2 linked regions of the Homo sapiens genome follow. The protein of the gene in region 1 purifies or fractionates together with the protein of each later gene. This does not show direct contact. Each region holds a gene or a part of one and is shown on either strand. Other genes may lie near its edges. The genes, in order: ZNF777 and ZC3HAV1.

Region 1 (11,983 bases):
TTATTTCAAAGTATCAATATTTACAATACTCCAGAAATTACATCTTTTGCAGTTACTGATGCATTTTATATGTTTATTCAAAAAGGTGCAAAGGAGTACATAGTTTTAAAAATCATTTTAAGGTGTAAGCAAGCAAAATATTTTAAGTAGTTTGTGAAGTCAGGGAAGTTTTCCTGATGCTAGAGTCGTGGTCATGTTTGTGGAGGGATCATAACAATTTAGCGCAGAGACAAGGATTGAAGACAGATGGGAAAAGGCACACAACTAATGGAGCAAAACTCCAGGGAGAAAGAAATGGGCAGGGCTAAGGAAACAAGCAGAGGAGTTCAGTGACAGGAGGAGGGAAGAGAGACATTACTTTCCCTGAGATTGGAGAGAAAAGGGAGGTAAAGATGGTGACTTTGAGCCAGTGTAGGAAGTAGGGGATGGAGGTATGGATGACTTTTTCTTTTCCTTTTAATAGAGAATAGGACACAGACATCTTTGGAGAGAGTGGGAGAGTTCCACAGTTCTGAGGGAATCAAAGGTCTTCATTTAAGGCTGTGGCGGGGGGGTAAATGAGAACATTAGAGCTGCTTTATATTCCATCCACTTCCAAACCAGTTGAGTTGGTGAATCAGAGAGGCATTAAAGGAGTGCCGCGCATCCGAAGGAATCCAGCTTAGGTCATCTAGCACCCATTTTCAGCCTGATGAGTTTGTCTGATTTCTTAGTAAGGGAATGAATGGATTTGGCAGAGGAGCATGAAGAGCCTCAGGAGGGCAGGACTGAGGCTGCTTGGTTCATTTATCTCCTGGCTTCTTTTCTCTTTTTCTCACAGCACTTGTCACCTTCTAACATACAAAGTAATTTATTTATTGTGTCTACCACCTTATGTAAGGTCTATGTTTTTTTCACTGGATATATCAAAAGCCGTTAGACCACATGACATGTAGTTGGTGCTCAGTGTCTGCTAGTAAACATTCGATGAATGAATGAATATGTGTGTACATGACATATTCTATTGTCATTGCAGTAAACATTTGTTCACCATAGCAAAACTCTGGGAACAAAACGTGAATGTTCTTCTGTTAGGGAAAGAATGAATAAGCCACGGTATTATCCTGACCATGGAATATATACAGCATTTTTAACAGTGTATTAGCACTGTAGAAATTGATTTGAAGCCAGGTGTGGTGGCTCATGCCTGTAATTCCAGCACTTTGGGAGGCTGAGGTGGGCAGATCACTTGAGGCCAGGAGTTCGAGACCAGCCTGGCCAACATAGTGAAACCCCATCGCTACTAAAAATACAAAAAATTCACGCCTGTAATCCCAGCACTTTGGGAGGCTGAGGCGGGCGGATCACGAGGTCAGGAGATCAAGACCAGCCTGGCTAACACGGTGAAACCCCGTCTCTACTAAAAATACAAAAAATTAGCCGGGTGTGGTGGCGGGTGCCTGTAATCCCAGCTGCTCGGGAGGCTGAGGCAGGAGAATCGCTTGAAGTTGGGAGGCGGAGCTTGCAGTGAACCGAGACCACACCATTGCACTCCAGCCTGGGCAACAGAGCGAGACTCCGTCTAAAAAAAAAAGAAATTGGTTTGAAGGGATTTCTACAAGATATTTGAGTAGAGGAACACAGAAGAGGCCAATAGTGACAAAAAAAAAAAAAAAAGAAAAAGAAACAAACATATAAATGTGTATGTGTTGTTTAGAATAACAACATAAGCACAGAGAAAAGTCCTGGTAAATTATAGGAGTTACCTGGGAAGTCATAGCGGTGAAATGGGAAGTAAGGGAAGGGGAAGGCAGATTAGATGGAAAAAAATACTGCACTAAAAACCAAAAATGTTATAATCCCATTTATGTAAAATGACACCTATGTATGTAATGATACATTTGAAATTAATCTACAGACCTATAGGCAAGTTTAGAAACAAATTTCAGGGCAGTGCGTAACAGGATGCTATTTAACTAAAAACAAACCCAAATGCCCATGGTGTACATGCATACGTGCTTGGGAATGTGAGTGTTTTTTGGACACCTCAGGGTATGGGGCCGAAGGGTGGGAGTGGTCAGGAGGTAGCCTTTTCTTCATCGACCTGATTGTGAGTGAGCAGATGAGAGAGAAACTGTGTTAACTGTACCGGTTGGCTGGTCTGACTGAGAAAGGGAATGAGCATCTCTTTAAAATAAACCCTGGCTGGGCGCAGTGACTCATTCATGCCTGTCATCCCAGCACTTTGGGAGGCTGAGATGGGAGGATCATGTAAGCCCAGGAGTTCAAGGCTGCAGTGAGCTATGATCACACCACAGCACTCGAGCCTGGGTGACAGAGTGAGACCTTTCTCTATTGAAAAAATAAGAGTAAAAATAAACCCTGACAATGCTGAATATTTTTTTTTAATTATGGAGCTCATGGAAAACAAACTTTGCATCTATTTTAACTTGACTACAGTTTGTATTGGTATTCAAAGCTACAAGGTGTCCAGAAAATTCTGTGTCTACTCATTTCCAACTCAATATTACATTTCTTCAGGGTCTCTAAGATAAGACTTATTGAGATGTAAATTGTAGGGCTGCAGAAACCTGGGCAGTTGGCATGAACATTCTGGGTTCTTTTCTCCTCCTCACCCCTGCCCACCCTCTCTCAGCGCACGATGGGATCGTGATTAAGATCGAGGTACAGACCAACGACGAGGGCTCAGAAAGTTTGGAGACACCTGAGCCCCTGATGGGACAGGTGGAAGAGCACGGCTTCCAGGACTCAGAGCTGGGTGACCCCTGTGGGGAACAGCCAGACCTGGACATGCAGGAGCCAGAGAACACGCTGGAGGAGTCCACGGAAGGCTCCAGCGAGTTCAGCGAACTGAAGCAGATGCTGGTGCAGCAGAGGAACTGCACGGGTGAGTGCTGGGCGGGGACGGCCGGGGAAGGGTTGCCATGAGGCCTCCCAGAGGGCCCCTGCCCCCTGGGAAAGCTGTGGTTCCTTCAGAGAGGTAGCTGGACACTGATGGGGCAACAGGTGGGAAAGAATTACCAAGCACGGCCTCGAGTATAGGCTCCGTGACGCGGGACTTGTAAGAATCCGTCTCCAACCTAGGAAAGAAGTGGTTACATCTAAAGACTGGTTCAGGCAAAGGGATCTCAGAGCTCACCTATCCCACCCCTCATTTTACAGACAGAGGTTAAATAGATGGGGCAAGGCCACACAGAGAGTGGCAAAGCTAGAACTCTCCCAACGTGTCCTTGATCATCTCATATCACCCTAGAAGCCTCAACTACCTTGAAGATTTCAGCCCTGGAGAGCATGGTTTTCAAATAACAATAGCACCGGCATTCTGTGGTCGAACCTAGTCTTCATTTTTGTTTAATTATAAAACTTTATCACCATGCTGCTCACTCTTGCTCCTTCTGAGTTCAAGAACAGTAAGGCACTGGGGCTCACGGTGGCCTGATCCCAGGACATCTTTCGTGATGGATTTTCTGATGCTGAGCCATCCTGGCAGGCCCGGGAAAAGCCCTACTTGATCATCATGATGTATTTTTTGAATTCACTATTGGACTTAGGTAATAAATATTTTACTCAAGTTAGACAACTGTATTCATAAATGAAATGAACCTTTTCTTGAATTATTCTCATCTAATTTTGGAAACAGTATTATACTGGACATATCAGATGAACTGGGCAGCTTTTGCTGTTGTTCTGTATTCTGAAAAAAAAATAGGAATTGAGTGTGTTCCTTGAAAAATTGGTAGAACCCACATGGACTTTTGTTTTTGTCTGGATGTTTCGTTTATGTGTGAGTCATTCACCATTACGTTTGTATTGTATTTTCATATTTAGAAATAGATCCACATCCATTTCTGTTTTTAAAAGTATTATATTGATGTAAAGTGTTTAAAAATTATCTGTAGATAATTCCTCTATAATTTGCCTTTTTGCACTTAATAAAATACCCATGGTATTTTATTAATGACCATCTCGTTGGTCAAAAGATATGGATCTAGGCCCAGGGCAGTGACTCACACCTGTAATCCCAGCACTTTGGGAAGCAAAAGCAGGAGGATTGCTTGAGCCCAGGAGTTCATGGCCAGCCCAGGCAACATAGGAAGACCCCATCTCTACAAAAAAATTAAAAATTAGCCGGGAATGGTGGCGCATGCCTGTAGTCTCAGCTCCTTGGGAGGCTGAGGTGGGAGGATTGGTTGAAGCTGAGAGGCTGAGGCTGCAGTGAGCCATGATTGTATCACTGCACTCCAGCCTGGGTGACAGAGCAAGACACTGTCTCAAAAATATGTACATATATGGATCTACCACCTTATTTTTAAGTAACTCCATGGTATTTCAGAAGTGTTTTTGACATACCATGCTGTCTTTCATAACAGAATAGTGAAAAGACATAAGGTAAATTCTGAGTATATGCTAAATTGGGACCATCATCGTATAAACTCTATTGCCTTTTGAGCAGTCCCCATTAATTGTAGTAGAACTTTAGAAAACTACTAAACAGTAGTTTGTGGAGTTTTGAGTCTTGAGTTTTAGGGCCAAATGTTTGGCGTTTACCATTCCATGAAGAAAAAAGCACCTTCGGCCAGGAGCGGTGGCTCATGCCTATAATCCCAGCAGTTTGGGAAGCTGGGGCAGGCGGATCGGATCACTTGAGGTTAGGAGTTCGAGAGCAGCCTGTCCAATGTGGTGAAACCCCATCTCTACTAAAAGTATAAAAATTAGCTGGGCATGGTAGCAGGCACCTGTAATCCCAGCTACTCGGGAGGCTGAGGCACGAGAATCGCTTGAACCCAGGAGGCAGAGGTTGCAGTCAACCGAGATCGTGCCACTGCACTCCAGCCTGAGCGATAGAGCCAGACTCAGTCTCAAAAAATAAATTAAAAGAAAAAAAGAAATAAGCACCTTTGATGCTCAAGGAGAGTTTAGTGCTTCTCAGGATCTATTTTCCCCTTTGCCTTTCAGACATACTCAGTATTTTCAGGATAAACACCAGGGCAACTAGTTACCACACTCTGCAGCTGCCTGCTCCTTGATCTTTTAGGCATCACGCTCCAAGGATGTTCTGGGTCGCTTCTTGCTGAGAATCCTAACACTACTGAGGCAGCCTTGACTCAGCACACCTGTGTCCTAATTTTACCACTGTAGTTCACTGGCTGTAGAGGAGGCCAAGGAAGTGCTAAGGACAGGGAGTCACTAGCAACCTTACAAGACGTTGGCTGGGTCACAAACATTGCTAGCTTCAGTCCATGTTACTTGAGGAGGTAGACCAGGTGGGTCCCAACCTGCAAACTCTAGAAAGGCCTAGGACTTCATTTTCTATTTGGAAACATCACTTGATATCTCTGGGCTTGGATGACCCATCTGTAAAATGGGGAGAATTCTTGCTTGACTCGTCCTATAATAAGATACTGTGCTCATGAAAAAAAAAGGACAGGTATGAGTACTCTGAAAAGGTCTTGTTGGTTTTTAATTATTCTGCAAACACAGAATTTTTGTGTCTTCTGTCACAGATGGGTCCAGAGAAGTGACTTTCTTATGTCACACAAAGCTGGTGACTAAAAATAGAACTCACCAGTTAGTGCCAAATAAGTACAAGGCACTTGAGAAAACTCAAACAGGAGTCGGGAGCCACTTCTTTTCTCTAAAACTTACATTATCATAAAGGACCAGGCTAGAGAGTTGAGGGGGCATCCCCGGGTGGGGCATGCACTGCCTGCACCTGATCCAGATTCAAGGGTGGTCGAGTCTGACTGTGCCGGTGCATCTTCCACCCATGAGAGGCTGCAAAAGGCTGGGTTCCTGATCCCTGGGGTGGGCACCAGTGAGTACTGTGGGCTCCAAGGAGGGGTGGAGTGCTGTAGGTTTTGATCACCAAGGCAGACATGGAGAGGAGAGGGAAATTTCTGGAGGAAGGTGAGGAAAGGCACCAAGAGGAGAAATCTCCAAGTGGATTAAGAAAGAAGTGGGCCGGTCTGAGCAGAGTTCAGGCAGAGATGTCCTCAGAGGGGCAAAGACTGAGAACCTTAGGAGTGGAGACCCTTTGGTACAGCTGGTAGAAACCCAACCTTTAAGTAGCCTAATGGAAAAAGGGGTGTGTATCGCTCATATAATTAGAGAATCGTGAGTATTCCAGCATCAGGCATGGCTGGATCCAGGTGTTCCCACATCGGCTCTGTGTACTGGTTTCCTTCTTTCCTGCTGGGTCCGGCTGTACCAGCAGTTTCGCATCATAACCAACAGGAAGCGATTTCCCCTGCGGTCCTCTGTATAAAATCCAAAGAGGACTCTTTTTAGCCCCTTTTAAGTCTGGACTCATTCCTGAAGCAAACAGCAAGGCCAGTCTGGGTTACGCGTCTACCCCGTTGGGGGAGGGGAGCGGACCAGGGGACGCAATGAGGGGACTTTTCCCAAAAGAAGGAATTTGGGCCAATAATGCAATGTTTTGGTGAGGGTGAAGCAGTGCTGTACCTCCATCCAGGTAGGTTAGGGGCGCCAGGCAGCAGCTAACGACTTTCTCTCTCTGTCCCTGGAGCAGAGGGGATCGTGATCAAGACAGAGGAACAAGACGAGGAGGAAGAAGAGGAGGAGGAGGATGAGCTGCCGCAGCACTTGCAATCCCTTGGGCAGCTGTCCGGGAGATATGAGGCCAGTATGTACCAGACCCCGCTGCCCGGGGAGATGTCCCCCGAGGGCGAGGAGAGCCCCCCGCCCCTGCAGCTAGGAAACCCCGCAGTGAAAAGGCTGGCGCCCTCCGTGCACGGTGAGCGGCACCTGAGCGAGAACCGCGGGGCCTCGAGCCAGCAGCAGCGGAACCGGCGCGGCGAGCGGCCCTTCACATGCATGGAGTGCGGCAAGAGCTTCCGCCTGAAGATCAACCTCATCATCCACCAGCGCAACCACATCAAGGAGGGGCCCTACGAGTGCGCCGAATGCGAGATCAGCTTCCGGCACAAGCAACAGCTCACGCTGCACCAGCGCATCCACCGCGTGCGCGGAGGCTGCGTCTCACCCGAACGCGGGCCCACGTTCAACCCCAAGCACGCGCTCAAGCCGCGTCCCAAGTCACCCAGCTCTGGTAGCGGCGGCGGTGGCCCTAAGCCCTACAAGTGCCCCGAGTGCGACAGCAGCTTCAGCCACAAGTCCAGCCTGACCAAACACCAGATCACGCACACGGGTGAGCGGCCCTACACGTGCCCCGAGTGCAAGAAGAGCTTCCGCCTGCACATCAGCTTGGTGATCCATCAGCGCGTGCACGCGGGCAAGCATGAGGTCTCCTTCATCTGCAGCCTGTGCGGCAAGAGCTTCAGCCGCCCCTCGCACCTGCTGCGCCACCAGCGGACTCACACAGGCGAGCGGCCCTTCAAGTGCCCCGAGTGCGAGAAGAGCTTCAGCGAGAAGTCCAAGCTCACCAACCACTGCCGCGTGCACTCGCGCGAGCGGCCGCACGCCTGCCCCGAGTGCGGCAAGAGCTTCATCCGCAAGCACCACCTCCTGGAACACCGGCGCATCCACACAGGCGAGCGGCCCTACCACTGCGCCGAGTGCGGCAAGCGCTTCACGCAGAAGCATCACCTGCTGGAGCACCAGCGCGCGCACACGGGCGAGCGGCCCTACCCCTGCACGCACTGCGCCAAGTGCTTCCGCTACAAGCAGTCGCTCAAGTACCACCTGCGGACCCACACGGGCGAGTGAGCGCGCGCCCCGCCGCCGCCGCCCGGCCAGGTGCGCGGGCCGTGCCCCCCCTCGGACACCGCCAGGCCCGAGCCCAGCGGGCGGGGGCGGGGCGCCCCCCAGCCCCTTTGCCGTGAGCTCCCCCTCTCCTCTCGTCCCTCCTCCCAAGGACATGGGGGCAGTGAGACCAGGTCCCTTGCTGCCGCGTTTCCCCGGGGGCCCCAGGGGGGAGGGCGCGGACCTGGGGAACCCTTTCGGGCTGTTAATTTCCTTGACAATAAAATGGATGAAACCAATCAGCACGGGGGGCGTGATTTGGCCGCCGGCCACTCAGAGGGGCGGTGTAGGGCCCATCTAGTTGGGGATAGAACTTTATAATTACCTTTTGGATACTGTGGTTCTATTTGATAATAATAGAGTAATTTTTAAAAGAAGAGCGTTTCCTGTTTGCCGTTTTTGTTTGGTTTGAAGGGGAGGGATTGAGAAGGCCGGAGGGACATACGCTAGTGTCAGTTGACAGGTTCTGTTGGGACCCTTTTTTGTGTTCCTTCTCCATTTGGGTGGTGAGGGAGACGCTGATCCCGCCGGTTCTGAAATGGAGGAGGAGAGGCAGGACTGACGTCTAAGGGACCACGGGAACCCCAGACCATCGCGTCTGCCCTGGAGTCCATGAGGTTGCTGGGAGCTCAGGACTGAATAGGTCCCAGTTGACTAGCGTGGTCAAGGAGAGTGACGGTCAGGTTTGGAATGAGCTGGAAAGAAGGTCCTGTAGCAAAAGCTGGGCGCTGCCTTCAGTGCCCAGGCGTTCCTGCGTAGCTTGAAATGCAGCTGGCTGAGGAGTAGGGTGGCGGGAGGGAAGCCTAGGGAAGAGGTGCAGAGGCCCCTGGTGCCAGTCTTTGCGGAAGCCACAAAAGGCACCAGTCAGAACATTTTTTATTTGAATGTTGCACCAAAGCTACTCTGGACTTGCTGAACGCACTGACGAACCCTGGTTTCTCTAGGTATTCATTCATTTCCCATCTCCCTCCAGCTCTCTCTTATAGAAAGAGAAACTGCAGGAATATTTATTACGTTGCCCACAGAGCGATTTACTCTGCTGATGGGTTTGGCAGTGGCCCAGAGAGAATTCAGGCCATTCGAAGGGATAATTCATGGAGGCTAGCAGAGTGCACAGCTCAGCCTCGCACACTGGGGAAGCTGGGCTGAAAGCAGAGAGACTGGCCTGAGAGGAGAGCACTGCTGAAGCCAGGCCTGTCAAGTTGTGACAAGATACTTGAAGGGGGTTCAAAAAAGGGGATTTGGAGGAAGAAGGTGATACACTCTTGACTTTCAGGAGACCATAGAGATCATCAACTCCCTCTGCTTTGTATAAAGAGTTTGTAAGCTAAGCACAGAAAGGGGAAGTGATTGATAGCACAAGATCTCACATGTGAAGCTTCTCCATTTAGACTGAATTTCTAAGTCGATGATAGGACATATAGGGATGGTGGCCAGAGGAGGGAGCAGAGGTCTGGGCTGGTGTAAAGGACTGAGGGGCAGTTTCCACCAAGACCTGAAGCATCAGCTGCGAGGCTGGTGCAGATACGTGGGCAGGTAGTTCCGTAGTGTGCAGCCAGCTTCACCAGTTGCCAGGCAGAGGGGGCCTGCAGGAGGACAGCTTCCCCCAGGAGGTGGAATCTGAGCTGGGCCTGCGGGATGGAGAGGATTTCCATACATGAGAAAAATGAGGAAAGCTTTCTTGGTGGGGGTGGTCATAAAAGGAAAAGTGTGGAGAGTAGGCTGCATGTAAGATCAGGATGTAAGCAGTGATGGATTAAACCTCAGCTGGATGAAAGGGCCTGTCTAGGAAAAACAGGGCCAAATGTTGGTTTGGAGTAGACTAGGGGTGCAGAAAGGATCTAAGACTTCAAGGCTGCAGACTTTGAATTGGATCTTGTAGGAAAAACCATTGAAGATTGCTGAGTAGGAGAGAGAGATGATACAAATAGCTATCCAGGGACTGAATCTGGTAGAAGGCAAAGAAATCTAACAGTCAGGTGTGGGAGAACCAGCTCAGTTCCACGGACGGGTTGCAGATAACAGAACCCGTGGGTGGAGGTTGAAGGGATGGCAGGGGAAATGGTTCTTTTGAACGTGAGGATATTTGAAGTCTCAAAGAGTTGTTAGTGGAGGAATTTGGGGAGGTATTTGGTAGAGGGCTGTTGCTGCCCTAAATTTTTACTAGCTCTGGAATTGGAGGACCAAAGAGTGCTGGAAATATCCACCCTGAGTGGAGACGGAGGTGCTGTGGGGTAGAATCCATGTGGGAGACTCAGAGAGGAACTTCATTTGTTACATGAAGTTAGCAGGACATTATGGGGTCAAATGAGAATGGTGCTTGAGAGGCTTTCTTTTTCTAGGAAATCTGGGTGGTTTTTGTTTCGTTTTGCTTGTTTTCTGAGACAGGGTCTTGCACTGTCACCTAGGCTGGCATGTGGTGGCACCATCATGGCTCACTCTGACCTCAACCTCTTAGGCTCAAGCAGTCCTCCTGCCTCAGCCTCTCGAGTAGCTGGGGGACTACAGGTGTGCACCACCACACCCAGCTAATTTTTTTTTTAACTTTTTTGGAGATGGGGGAGTCTTTCTGTGTTGCCCAGGCTGGTCTCAAAACTCCTGGCCTTAAGCCATCTTCCCACCTCAGCCTCCCAAAGTGCTGGGATTACAGGTATGAGCCATAGCTCCCATCTGAAATTTGTTTTTTAAAAGGATTAAACCAAATATAGTCAAAGATTGGTATTTCTTTTTCTTTTAACTGACAATTTATTGCACCAACTAGAACAGCCTGGTTCGTGCATCCTTACGTCTCTGTCTATTGGGATACCATTTAAAGTCTTTCAGAACACGTCATAGTATGTCAAGATTGGTTCATCTTACACGTAGCTGGGCTGCCATGACTTCCCTGACTTCTACCTCCCCTTCCTTGGCTCTGACTCCCTCCTCATGCCTCTTCCTAAGTGCCCAGCACCCTGTGCCCCCCATCGTCTCTCCCCTTGTTCTGACTTCTTGCCACCATCTTGAATCTCACTTTCCATTTGCCCTAATCTCTGCTATTGGTTCCTAAAGTGTAGATAGCCTTTGGTGTCAAAAAGACGTGGCTTTAAACTTCATAGTTGTATGGCCTTGAACAAGTTAATTAACAGAACATCAATTTCCTCATCTGTCAAATAGGGATAATAAAGTTCCCATTGTTCTGAGGCTTAAATCACAATAGATACATAGCAAAGACACTGGCAGATACTAAGGTCTCAATAAGAGATTACTAATTTCAAACAGAAGTTCAAGTTGGTAGTGGGCTAGTGTTATATCCTAAAAGAATGAATCTTTGAGAAGGAAATTTCAGTAGGCAAATGTAGATTATTTTGGTGTGAGAAAGTACAAATTAAACCACAACTATATCATGGTCCTTATCTAGGAGTGGACAGGGTTTCAGTTCACCCCTTGGCCACACTCCAGAGTTTGCAGGAGGTAGTACCCCACCTCGCTGAGTTTTCTGGTCCTCTTTCACAGTGCTTTTCTTGGGTGCCCTTAATTTAATTAGACTTGTGAACTCCTAAGTTGCCTGTTGCTGTTGGCCCCATAAAGCTGTGTAGCAGAAGGAATAACTACCATTTATTGAGAGCTTCTTACTTTGGAAGACTTTACATACATCCCTTCATAACTCTGATGTATGTTTCATTACACCCATTTTATAGGTGGAAAGCTCCAGGCTCAGGGAGGTTAAGTAGGCCCAAAGTCACACAGCAACCAAATAGTAGAGCCAGGATTTGAACTCAGTTCTTTGACTCCAAAGCCCATGTGCTTGGCCAAAAAGTTGTTTTCCTGGGGCCAGTATCGTTGTTGAAAAAAGAAAAGCCAGCACCTCTTTTAAATTATTCCATTTTGCCTCCGGATTTTTTGACTGAAGATAAAATTGGGGGAAACAAAATATATTAAACAGAACATGCTCTGTGCATTTGCCAAAATGATGAACACAGTAAGAGGATAAAAAAGAATGTTTGAGGCAGGAAAAAACCCTTAGCGCTGAGCCCTAGCATTTTATAGCTGAGAAATGAAGAGGAGAGGAGTTGGGTCCTCCAAGGTCACAGGTGGGACAGGCAGGGCTGGTGCCGAGGGGATGCTCACTGTCTTACAGCCCTGCACCCCCCCCCCAGTATTTATTAATCACCACTTGTGTGCAAAGAATTGTGCTGGGCTCTGTGGAGAAACACAAGAGGATTAGGAATCCCTGGCTGCCTAGACAGCACTTAGCATCTGGTGGAGACTGGCAGCCTGGTTA
Region 2 (12,783 bases), about 10 Mb from region 1:
GTTCCTTTAGGCGCTAGTCTTTTTTTTTTTTTTTCATTCTATCAACTCTGGCTTCTCTCTCTCAGCCTTACTGCTTTACAATTCAATGATTTCATGTGTCTATCTTTTAAAAGTTTTCATAAATTTATTATTGTACAGCTGCTGCCTTAAAGTTAGTAGCTCCGTTGTGAAAGCTGATGGAGTGAAATTTTTAGATGATTAGACTTTAGCTGGGATTAATGTTATCAACTGGAGTGGGAAGGGGATGTCTCCGTGTTAAGTCTCACATCTCTTATATTAGGAAGAAATCGCAGATGAAGGAAGAAGGAAAACTCCTATTTTATGCGACAAGCCGTGCCTATGTGGAATCTATCTGTTCGAATAATTTTGACAGTTTCCTACATGAAACTCATGAAAACAAATACGGAAAAGGTTAGTGCCGGGATAGAGAAGCGTAACTAGTAGAGTCATAACTCGGGCTTTATATGTGCTTCTATTAGGAGGTATATGTAATTATTTTGTATTAACCAGAGTGTCCAGGCTCTAGTGGTCCTGGAGAGACAGTAAGCTCACGGTAATATCAAATGCCCAAATGAGAGTGAATCAGTTGACTTGGAGCTTGATTGCTGGACCTTAGTCCCTGTCTTCTGTTTTCTTTCTGGGAGTGACCAAAGTCTTCATACGTGCTTGTAAACTACTCCATCTGTTGGTCTTGTTGTCTACCATTACTACTCACTTCTGGCTTGGCTCTTCCTGAACCCATGTCCATGCCTGCGAAGCTATATGAGGCTTCAGTTGTCACAGATTGGTTTTAATTAAAGAGCGGGAGAAGAGGCCTCTCCCCATCTCAGGCCACACTGGGTCACCTCGGTCTGAAGTGTCACAGGTCTGCCCACACACAAAATCTTTATAGCTCTTTCTTTTTGCTCCTAAACTCTTGCATCCAATTTTTTTTTTTTTTTGAGACAGGGTCTCACTTTGTCACCCAGTTTGGGTGACAATCTCGGCTCACTGCAGCCTCAACCTCCTGGGCTCAAGTGATCCTACAACTTCAGCCCCTCAAGTAACTGGGACAACAGGTGTGTGCCACCACATCCAGCTAATTTTTTTTTGTTGTATTTTTTATAGAGACAGGGTTTCGCCATGTTGCCAAGGCTGGTCTCAACTCCTGAGCTCAAATAATCCGCCTACCTTGGCCTGCCAAAGTGCTGGGATTTCAGGCATGAGCCACTGCTCCTGGATGCATGCAACTCTTTTTTTTTTTTTTTTTTTTTTTGGAGACAGAGTTTCGCTTTTATTGCCCAGGCTGGAGTGCAATGGCTCGATCTCGGTTCACTGCAACCTTCACCTCCTTGGTTCAAGTGATTCTCCTGCCTCAGCCTCTCAAGTAGCTGGGATTACAGGCATGTGCCACCACGCCCAGCTAATTTTGTATTTTCAGTAGAGACTGGGTTTCTCCATGTTGGTCAGGCTGGTCTAGAACTCCTGACCTCAGGGGATCTGCCTGCCTTGGCCTCCCAAAGTGCTGGGATTACAGGTGTGAGCCACTGCGCCTGGCCTGCATGCAACTCTTAAAAACAAACAAACCAGAGGGGAGGGGGGTGGGGGGAGGGATAGCATTAGGAGATATACCTAATGCTACGTGACGAGTTAATGGGTGCAGCACACCAACATGGCGCAGGTACACATATGTAACAAACCTGCACGTTGTGCACATGTACCCTAAAACTTAAAGTAAAATAACAATAAAATGAAAAAAAAAGAAAAAAAGAGAAATATTTATGAATGTAAATGTTTATTGTCCATTTTTAACTAATAAGCAAGCTTACTAAAAACTGCACTTCACACTTAGCTTAATGTTTGAGGGAATTAACTTCATAAATAAAAACTAGAAAATTAAAAAAACAAAAAAAAAACTAAGAATCAGTCATCTTTAGGAAATAAGTAATAGTTTATCACAGATTCAAAGTGAGTTCAACTCATACAACTAGGATTAAATTCAATTCTTGCCCCAAAAGGCAAGAAGTCAATCAGCCAGTCAGCAAATATTTTTGAGTGTCTTCTGTACACTAGATGGTGGGTACACAGTGGTGAACAAGTTAGACATGGCCCCAAACACATTTTGCATAATTATCTTACATAATTAATTAAATGACTGTGGCCAGGCATGGTAGCTTAGACCTGTAATTCCTGTACTTTGGGAGGCTGAGGTGGGAGGATCACTTGAGCCCAGGAGTTGGAGACCAGCTTGGGCAACATGGCGAGACCTTATCTAATTTTTTGTTTTAATTACAAACAAATTTTTTTAATTACCTGGGCATGATGGCACATGCCTGTAGTCCCATCTACTCAGCAGGGTGAGGTGGGAGAATTGCTTGAGCCCAGAAGTTTGAGGCTGCAGTGAGCTGTGATTGTGCCACTGTACTCTAGCCTGGGCGACAGAGCAACATTTTGTCTCAAAAAAAAAAAAAAAAAAATTAAATGATTGCAAATGTTGGGCTGCTATAGAGAAAAATAACAGATCCAGGTCAGGCGCGGCAGCTTCGCCTGTAATCCCAGCACTTTGGGAGACCGAGACAGGCAGATCACTTGAGGTCAGGAGTTCAAGACCAGCCTGGTCAACATGGTGAAACCCCGTTTCTACTAAAAATACAAAAATTAGCTGGGTGCAGTGGCCCATGCCTGTAATCCCAGCTACTTGGGAGGCTGAGGCAGGATAATCGCTTGAACCCGGGAGGCAGAGGTTGCGGTGAGCTGAGATCATGCCATTGCACACCAGCCGAGACTCCGTCTCAAAAAAAAAAAAAAGAAAAAAGAAAAAAAGGAACAGGTCCTGTGGACAACTAACCCAGCTAGAGAGGTGTTCCCAAGGATAGAGATAGAGTAGGATTCCCCTGCCTTGTAGAGTCACCACATGGCGGAGAAGGGAGAAATGGAACAAGGTATGACCATAAAGAGCTAAACTTGACTGTAAGCGCATGGGAAACTAATGAAAGGTTTTAAGCTGGGGAATGAATTTATTGATGAGATTTCATAAGTTTATTAAGTTTAAATGTATCAGTGAAACTTACCTAGAAGTGTTTGGAGGAAATGGGAAATGTAGTAACCATCTTAAGTGACATATGATAGGTGAAATTAAAACCCATCAGTTTCTTACAGGTCTATCCTATGTTAGAATTCAAACAAATATTTATCCTAAAAAATGAAATGTTAGGCTAGGCACTGTGGCTCATTCCTGTAATCCCAGCACTTTGGGAGGCCGAGGTGAGTGAATCACCTGAGGTCAGGAGTTTGAGACCAGCCTGACCAACATGGTGAAACCCCCCCATCTCTAATAAAAATACAAAGTTAGCTGGGCGTGGTGGCACATGCCTGTAGTCCTAGCTACTCGAGAGGCTGAGGCATGAGAGTTGATTGATCACAAGAAGGGGAGGCTGCAGTGAGCTGAGATCCTGCCACTGCACTCCAGCCTCAGTGACAGAGGAAAACTCTGTCTCAAAAAAGAAAAAAATAAAGCACTCAGAAATGTAGGAATAGAAATGAACTTTCTTAACACAATAAAGGGAATTTTAAAAAAAGAAAATATAGATTCCAGATTATATAAGTGTGATATAAAAAAACTGATGCAACAAAAACAAAAATGGACAAATGAGATAGCATCAAACTAAAAAGCTTCTCCACAGTAAAGGAAACAATTAACAAAGTGAACAGACAAACCCACAGAGTGGGAGAAAATATTTGCAAGCCATACATCTGATATGGGATTAATATCCAAAATATGTAAGGAACTTAAACAATTCAACAGCAAGAGAACAAATAACTCAATTTTAAAATGTGCAAGCTGTTCCCATAAGTGGCCTGCGGTGATCTGTGAAAATGGTTCACTATTCACTTGACCCAGAAAACTCCATGAAATCATGCAAATAAAGAGGTTCAAATCTTCATGTTCACTCTAAGGACACCCATGAAACTGCCCAGGCCATCAAGAGTACGCCTATATGAAAAGCCAGCAAATGTCTGAAAGATGTCACTGTATGGAAACAATGTGTACCATTCCAACGTTACGAGGGTGGAGTTGGTAGGAGTGCCCAGACCAAACAGTGGGGCTGGGCACGCAGTTTGTGACCCCAAAAGAATTGAATTCTTGCTGTACACACTTAAAAATGCAGAGAGTAATGCTGAACGTAAGGGTTGAGCTGTAGATTCTCTGGTCGTCGAGGATATTCAGGCGCACAAAGCACCCAAGATGTGCCACCAGACTTCCAGAGCTCATGGTTGGATTAACTCATGCCTAAGCTCCCCCTGCCACATAGAGACAATCTTCCTGAAGAAGCACACCGTGTTCCTAAACCAGAAGAGGAGGTGCACAGAAGAAAAAGCTATCCTAGAAGATACTGAAGAAGCAAAAACTTACAGCACGGGAATAAATTCAGCGTAAAATACATGCAAATAAAAGTTTCAAAAATGGGCAAAAGACTTGAATAGACATTTCTCAAAAGAAGAAATACAAATGGCCAATGAGTTCATGAAAAAATGCTCAACATCGCTAATCATCAAGCAAACGCAAATTAAAACCACAATGAGCTGTTGCCTCGCACCGATTAGAATGGGAGGCTGAGGTGGGAAGATTGCTTGAGCCCAGGATATCAAGGCTGCAGTGAGCCAAGATTGCACCACTGCACCCCAGCCTGGGTGACAGAGACCCTGTCTCAAAAACAGCAGCAACAACAACAACAACGAAAAAAAAAAAAAAAAAAGGAGAGAGAGAGAGTTGGATGTACTGACATAGCAAGATTTCTAGGACTAAAGTGGAAAAAAAAGTTGTAGAACAGTTCATATATTATGATCCTATTTATGAACAAGTAAACCACCATAAACCACCATATGCACATATATGTATGTGAATGCATAGAAACAGGTGTGAAAGAATTCCCGCCAGCCATAAACTGTTTTGGGAAGGGGAGTGGGATTGGACGTCGTAGGTCAGTATAGGTAGACTTCCATATTTTACTTTAAATATAGTAGAACATCATTTGCACAGAATATCTAGTATCTGACCTATTCAGGATAAGCAATGTTTCTGGAATTCAAACATCTAACTATAAAATGATAAAAAGAACAAAAACAAAGTAGATGGGAAGTATATTAAACATTTGTTACCACAAGTAAAACAATTCATTTTACTTATTGATTCTTGCATGGAAATAGGAGTTGCAATATCTACTCATGGTCTTTAAAACGACAGAGTAGCTTTCTTAGAAAATATTATTAGTATTTTTTGATACAGAATCTCACTCTGTTGCCCAGGCTGGAGTGCAGTGGTATGATCCTAGCTTACTGCAGCCTCAACTTCCTGGGCTCAATCAATCCTGCCTCAGCTTCCTGAGTAGCTGAGATTACAAGTGCACGCCACCATGCCCGGCTAATTTTTAAATTTTTTGTAGAGATGGAGTCTCCCCATGTTGCCCAGGCTGGTCTCAAATTCCTGGGCTCATGTGATCCACCCGCCTCAACCTCCCATAATGCTGGGATTACAGACATGAGCCACTGCACCTGCCCAGAGTAGCACTTGACAATGATAAAAATAAAAATTTTAACTTGGCAGGAAATTGTTGGTCTGCTGTGTATGGAAGCAGCAATCGTTATCTGAGGTTGTTTTAGAGTTGAGGACGAAGCATCAACTGACTCATCAGTTCCAAGTTTGCTCATTCAGCTCACACTGGGTGAATTGCATGAATTGGGCCACTGTGACATTGTCATTTGGTCATTGCACCCAATGGCTCACACTATCAGCATGAGCTCTGCACTGTAGCAAATATTCCTCAGTCATTTCTATAGGGTTATATACTGTATTTAAGTTCGCCTGCATCATTAACATGTTTTTAAGTGCAAAGGAAAGTTTATAAATATCAGTAAGGTATTATTGACATATGCTTAGTCCACACCCATCTGACTGTATATAACAAATCTTATAAACTGTATACCTTCTTTTATAATATTTCTTAACTTTTCTTTCTGATTCTTTCTAGGAATTTACTTTGCAAAAGATGCCATCTATTCCCACAAAAATTGCCCGTATGATGCCAAAAACGTCGTTATGTTTGTAGCCCAAGTTCTGGTTGGAAAGTTTACTGAAGGAAATATAACGTACACGAGCCCTCCTCCACAGTTCGACAGCTGTGTGGATACCAGATCGAATCCCTCCGTTTTTGTCATCTTTCAGAAAGATCAGGTTTACCCACAATATGTGATTGAATATACTGAAGACAAAGCCTGCGTGATTAGTTAGAACCGATGAATACAGCGTCAGAAGGATGCCATAACCATTCTGTTCCTTTACAGAACTAAATTGCCGCAGACAGGAGTTAAAGTTTTATATTTTCCTGCTCAGTTATCTAATGTCTTAGATCAGTGGTCCCCAAATTTTGCTACATATTAGAATCATCTGGGAGGTTTTAAACAAATTCTGATGCCCAGGTTGCACCCCATGCCAATGAAATCATTTCTGGGCGTCAGCGCCAGGCAGTTGTATTTTTTTTTTTTTTTTTTTTTTTGAGACTGAATCTCACTCCATCGTCCAGGCTGGAGTGCAGTGGCGCGATCTCGGCTCACTGCAACCTCTGCCTCCCGGGTTCAAGCAATTCTCCTGCCTCAGCCTCCCGAGTAGCTGGAACTACAGGCACACACTGCCGCGCCCAGCTAATTTTTTGTATTTTTTAGTAGAGACAGGGTTTCACTGTGTTGCCCAGGCTGGTCTCAAACTCCTGAGCTCAGGCAATCTGCCCGCCTTGGCCTCCCAAAGTGCTAGGATTACAGGTATGAGCCACCATGCCCGGCTGGCAGTTGTATTTTTTAAAGCCCTTCTGATGATTCCAATGTGTTGGAAAGTTTACCTTGTCTCAGATGTAACTGGTAAAGGCTGATTTCTAAATTTTCTGTAATTGCAGCAACCTTTCTCTCCTGTCTACCCTTTTAGTTTACTGTATGCCATGGTTTTGTTTTGGTTACATTGAAAGAAAGTTAATTTGGAAAATTTGGGAGAAATCTAATCATGCCTATTAAGGATGTAAGACATTACAGCCTTAGAAGAAAGATTGTGAAAAGCTGGGGAGAAAATGCTTAAGGACATGCTAGGGGAAAAAAAAGTAAAATTGAAGTGCTATTGCAGACATGGCTGCAGTACTGTACCTTATCATTCTGATGAAACTGATTTGGAGCACCCTTTTCTTTATCGCTACATTTATTTAGGGGACAAACTCCATCCAGGTTGACTCTCTCTGGAATGCGGTAATAAGAGCTGGCAAGTAAGGCTCAGAGAGAAGCAACCAACTGGAGTTAATTGCCCATTTGGGCTCTTTGTATAATTATGGCAAAGTAGACATTTATGTTCTAATTAATATGATTACAGAGAAGGCTTTTTCTCAGGTCAGGCTTTTCATGAAAGTATTTTGAGAACAATGAATTGCAATAACCAGCTTCACACAAGCATAACTGATAAACGCGAGTGCTATTGTAGTCTTGGCAAGTGAGCCAAGAACCTAGGAGCAGGGCCATTCCTACTGAAGGACGGGCCCCCTACGGAGATGAAATTTGTTTCCTGGTGAGCACAGAATCAGAACAAAGAACAATATCCCAAAGAGGCCCTGTGTCTACCAGGAGCTTCTTTTTCCAAATGTAATGGATTATGTGGAATTGTAGTGCCATCGGTTTTTACTTAGAGCCCTTGACGTGCTTGGACCAATATTTCCTTCCTTCTTATGAACCAGGTTTTTCCTTCTGATTTTCCCTTTTCAACATTCCTTACCAGTCACCAAAGTTTCCTGTTATAATTTCTTTTAGCAGACAAGTTATAAGTCAGATTTAATTAGCATCAGAGTTGATTTTATATTAGTCAGATTTTGGATCATCACAGAGATCTCCACAACTCCTTGGCTTAAACAGCTCCACCGGTAAAAAAAAAAAAAAAAAAAAAAAAAAAAAATAGTTTTTTTAGAGTAGAGTTATTTTCTGGGAGAGTTACTACAAATGCTTATTCTCATTGACTTATTTCTTTCATGGTAACTTTCGTTTTGGAGTGTTCATTTTCTGAACTTGACCCTCACATTGTAGGGGTGCAGTTTGTCCAACTCTTTCCAACAGCCCATTAGACACCACTAGCTGGATATTTCACAGGCATCTTTGATTCAATATGTCCAAAGTGGAACTCTCCATCTACCTCCCTCACATGAACCTGTTCCTCTCTCAGGATCTGTATGTAAGTGAAAAGCATCACCATCTACCCATTGGCTCAAGCAGAAATCTGGAAGTCATCTTTGACTCCTTCCTCTCCCTCCTGATAAACATCTAAGCAGTTTCTAAGTCTAGTTTTACCTCTTAAATATCTCTGTTCCCTTCTAAGTTGTTTGCTGTGTTTTCTTCAGAGCAAGAAGGTTATATTTTTTAAAATTTACTTAGTAATGCACATTCAAAACACACATCAAGTCTTCAGGATAAAGTTCAAAACCGCTGTCATGGCCCCATGTGATCTCTCCCTCCCCTACCCCTCTATCATTTAGTTTCTTCTGCGCAAGCCACTCTGGCTTCCTTTCAGTTTTGTGGTTCCCATTTTTAGCTAGTTCAGTGGTTTTCAATGGGCATTTCTGCCTTTTTTTTTCTAAACGACAAATAGAAATACATCTTCTTTATTATCCTCCAAATCCAATTCAGAGGTAATATGCTCCACCTACACACAATTTTAGAAATAAATTAAAAATTAAATAAAACTAATATGAACATAAAGAGGAAATAAAAGGTACCTAACTTGGGCACAGCTGTAACTGAAGACCTAATGAAGTAGTCAGATGCTTACAACTATTTATAATGCATCAATTTGAACTTAGAAGGTAGGAGATCAGATCATATGTGGGAAAATGTAAAAGCAGGGATATCAGTGGGCATTAGAATAAAAACTAGGGATACAATAACTTCTTTGCATATGACAATACTTATTTGTATATAAGAGAAAGAACGAAATAACCTTTATTGAAATAAAGATACTATGCAAGAAAATGTACAGTTGTCGAAGTGGAGAAAATGAGGATATATTCTTGCAGACGAGCTATAGGTCATACATGAATGTCTAGTGAGACATTCAAAATTCGTATAGGGTGCAGAGTAATTTCTTATTGTGAGGAACTGTCCAATGTATTGCAAGATGTTCTGCATACTTGGCTCTCACATACTAAATGCTAGTAGCGCCCCCACCCCCACGCCCAGTCACGGTGACAACCACAAACCCTATCAGATCTATTCACCTTTTTCAGAGCAGATATTTTGTAACATTCTCTTTGCTGACCTGAAATGACTCATAGATAATACAATCTACTTACACACATGAATTTCTTAAAAAAATCAATTTAATGCCCTAACTCTCTTATTAAGGAGAAATAGAAAAGAAGAAATTTATAATGAAAAGAAGATGAATTTCATTATGTAAACGCTCAGGCATGACTACGCTGTTTGAAACAGACAGATGTTTACTCTTCCTTGTAATGAGTAGGTTTGGATTTAAGAGCCGATTAGAGGCTACTTCCTGTAAACAAGTACAGGAAAATGAAACTAGACGGGTGGGGGACACTAGAATGAAAACCAGTGTTAGGGTAAAGACAAAACAGACTATGTACATAATCTGTATATGGGAAAAGAAAGAGCGAAATTACCTTACTTAAGGATAATAGGACAAGACAAATTACAGATTGTCTCAGAGAAAACAAATGAGTTACTCTCTCGGACAAGCTGTAGGTCCTACCTAAATGTCCAGCAGGACATTAGACAGTCGTACAGGGTACAGAATAATTCTTCGTTGTGTGGCACTAACCCACACACTGCAGGACATCGTTCTCCCTGGCTGCATCCACTCAGTGCTGGGAGTAGTCCCCAGTTATTATGAAACCACCAATAACCCACTGACCACAGTGAGAACCACTGATTTTTTCCACTGACCTACTGAATATCTAGCATCCTTAGATTGGCTCAACTGTTACTTTCCTAAGGAGTCCTTCTACAGAATAGGTCAGATCTTGGCCTCCCAAACCCCTTATTTTTAAAATACTTTGCGCCTTGCTTTGATAATTTGTATTATGTATCCAAACTGAAATTATCTGCTTTCTGCATTAGAATGTAAGCCCCCTGAGGGTTGAGTCAGTCTGTCTTGTTTGCTGTGCCACGCCTGATGCCCAGCCCAGCAGCATGCTTTGTACACTGATATATTGGGTAAATTTTGTTGAATAAATTAAGCTCAACTATTTGTATTTCAATAGTTGAGTTGTATTGCTTCCTGTTCTTCAAGCTTAATTTGAACTGTCTAATAAAAAGAAGTAATTAATTTGGTTCTACTGCCTTTATTTGATCTATTTCTAGGTATCTCCCAAAACATCATCAACTGCAGACACCAGTTATTCAATGGGAGAGAGATGATGTGTTTTGCCCCTTCCAGCTTTATCATTCCAGGGTTCGATGACCAAGTCACCTGGGCAAGGCACAGTGGTGGTGATGGCCCCCACATCTTTTGTCTGGGGATTTAGAGAGGGAAGGGTTGAAAGCTGCTAACACACCTTTCTTCCTTTAGTCTCGGGGGTGTGAACAGGGCCAGGCTGAGACACAAAAGTTAAAAATATAAATGGTGATAAGCAGAATTACCCTATCAGCCATTCCTTCTCCAAAAGCCCTTCTCTACTCATTATTTTCTTCTCTTTTTTTTTTTTTTTTTTTTGAGATGGAGTCTCACTCTGTCACCCAGGCTGGAGTGCAGTGGCGCAATCTCAGCTCGATGCAACCTCTGCCTCCTGAGTTCAAGCAATTCTCCTGCCTCAGCCTCCTGAGTAGCTGGGATTATAGGCGCCCGCCACCATACCCGGCTAGTTTTTGTATTTTTAGTATAGGTGGGGTTTCACCATGTTGGCCAGGCTGGTCTTGAATTCCTGACCTAAGGTGATACACCTGCCTTGGCCTCCCAAAGTGCTGGGATTACAGGTGTGAGCATCTCACCCGGCCTCATTATCTTTTTTAATCACAAAGCTTTCAGTGGAGAGGGAGCAGGGAGGAGGGAAATGGAGAGGGAGAGCAAGTTCTATGGCAGCAGAGATTTGATAAAGTGAAGGTAAAACTACCATTTGACTTGGACCTCAATATAAATAAAGCAAGGTGTAGCAAAGTCATTGCTGTCAAAGCACCTGGATTGAAACACACAAAAATGCTATCAAACCAAGCATGAGCAGATCCTGGAGTTTTTTTATTTATTTTTTTTATGAGTTTGTTTACGTTGTCATAGTGCGCTAGTTTCCGGTGGACTCCTCAGTCCAGCATTTGGTAGAAATGAAGCTATGGCCGGGTGCAGTGGCTCACGCCTGTAATCCCAGCACTTTGGGAGGCTGAGGCGGGTGGATCACGAGGTCAAGAGATCGAGACCATCCTGGCCAACATGGTGAAACCCCGTCTCTACTAAAAAGACAAAAATTAGCTGGGCATGGTGGTACACACCTGTAGTCCCAGGTACTTGGGAGGCTGAGGCAGGAGAATCGCTTGAACCGGGTAGGTGGAGGCTGCAGTGAGTCAAGACTGCGCCACTGCACTCCAGCCTGGGTGACAGAGCAAGACTCTGTCTCAAAAAGAAAAAAAAAAAGAAAAAAGAAATGAAGCTAAATAACAACCACTTTCCACTCATACCCTCATACCTTAGCTACTATAAAGAGAACTGCCATGAAACGCAATACTTAGTTGAGTGCTAAGCATGTGTGTCTGGGGCCATGGGGCCATGTTCTGAGACATGTCTTGGAAAGAGTTCAGGGGATAACAGGCAGGTTTCATTTAGAAGGTTAAGACCAGAGCGGATGAATTTATAACAGTGATATCAGTGCATGTCCCCAGAGTGACTTGCTCCAAAGCTCGTGCTACAGATGTGTGCCTGAGTGACCATAAGCTTGAGAATGAGCTTCAGAATCAGAGTGGCAGGAGACATCAGAACGTTCCAGGAAGTGCTTAAGCCTTAAAAGCTCCAATCCTAAAATACCACCCCCAACCTCAACCTCCTGTTTTCTCTTTTTCATTCCCTTGTGAACCTGCCCGGCATCTAATGTCACCCTCTTCTTCCTGAAAAATCCACATGCTTCAATAAACAGTCTGCTCTGGGATCTTTCCTTTTTACCCCTCTATGCACTTCCCCATGAATGGTCTTATTTATTCCCAGATCCAAGTGTCACACACTCTGAATCCAGGATCTATACCTCTGCTGAGGAGTCAGATAAGCTGTGCAGTGTCACGGCTACTGAGTAAGAGAACCAAGATTCTAAACCCGGAAGTTCAGGTGCAGAGTCTGCAGGTTAAGTGTGTATCTGTAGGAACAGTCTCTACCTCTTCCCTCTCACCTCCCCACCCTTCCCCCATTAACTCCTGCATTTGCTCTTGGAGTCTTCTCCACACTCTGCCTCATAGTCTTCCTCTCCACTCAAAATCCTCCCTTTTCCTTCAGTGTTCACTGTGGTCAACCCATGCAACACCCCTAGCCTTAGATGTCATTAACACCTGTCTTCACTGTCCTCACTATTCGGGGTACCAATATCCATCACCCCACTGTCATCAGTCAGAATTACTCTAGAACTGCTTTTTTTTTTTTTGAGATGGAGTCTCGCTCTGCCGCCCAGGCTGGAGAGCAATGGCGTGATCTCAGCTCACTGCAACCTCTGCCTCCAGGGTTCGAGCGATTCTCCTGCCTCAGCCACCCAAGTAGCTGAGATTACAGGCGCCTGCCACCACGCTCGGCTAATTTTT

Evidence for each region.
Region 2: the proteins of ZNF777 (region 1) and ZC3HAV1 purify together in Homo sapiens (affinity purification with mass spectrometry; 2 studies listed by BioGRID and IntAct, with this or other methods). This does not show direct contact.

What each region holds. Positions count from the first base shown.
Region 1 is NC_000007.14:149,427,479-149,439,461, reverse strand, and holds the end of ZNF777 (zinc finger protein 777), read left to right. Parts: intron 1-2,635; coding exon 2,636-2,887; intron 2,888-6,529; coding exon 6,530-7,686; 3' UTR 7,687-8,099; downstream 8,100-11,983. UniProt on the Homo sapiens protein: May be involved in transcriptional repression. Inhibits cell proliferation through CDKN1A/p21 induction by down-regulation of NIBAN1/FAM129A at low cell density.
Region 2 is NC_000007.14:139,041,079-139,053,861, reverse strand, and holds the end of ZC3HAV1 (zinc finger CCCH-type antiviral protein 1), read left to right. Parts: intron 1-280; coding exon 281-411; intron 412-6,008; coding exon 6,009-6,268; 3' UTR 6,269-10,347; downstream 10,348-12,783.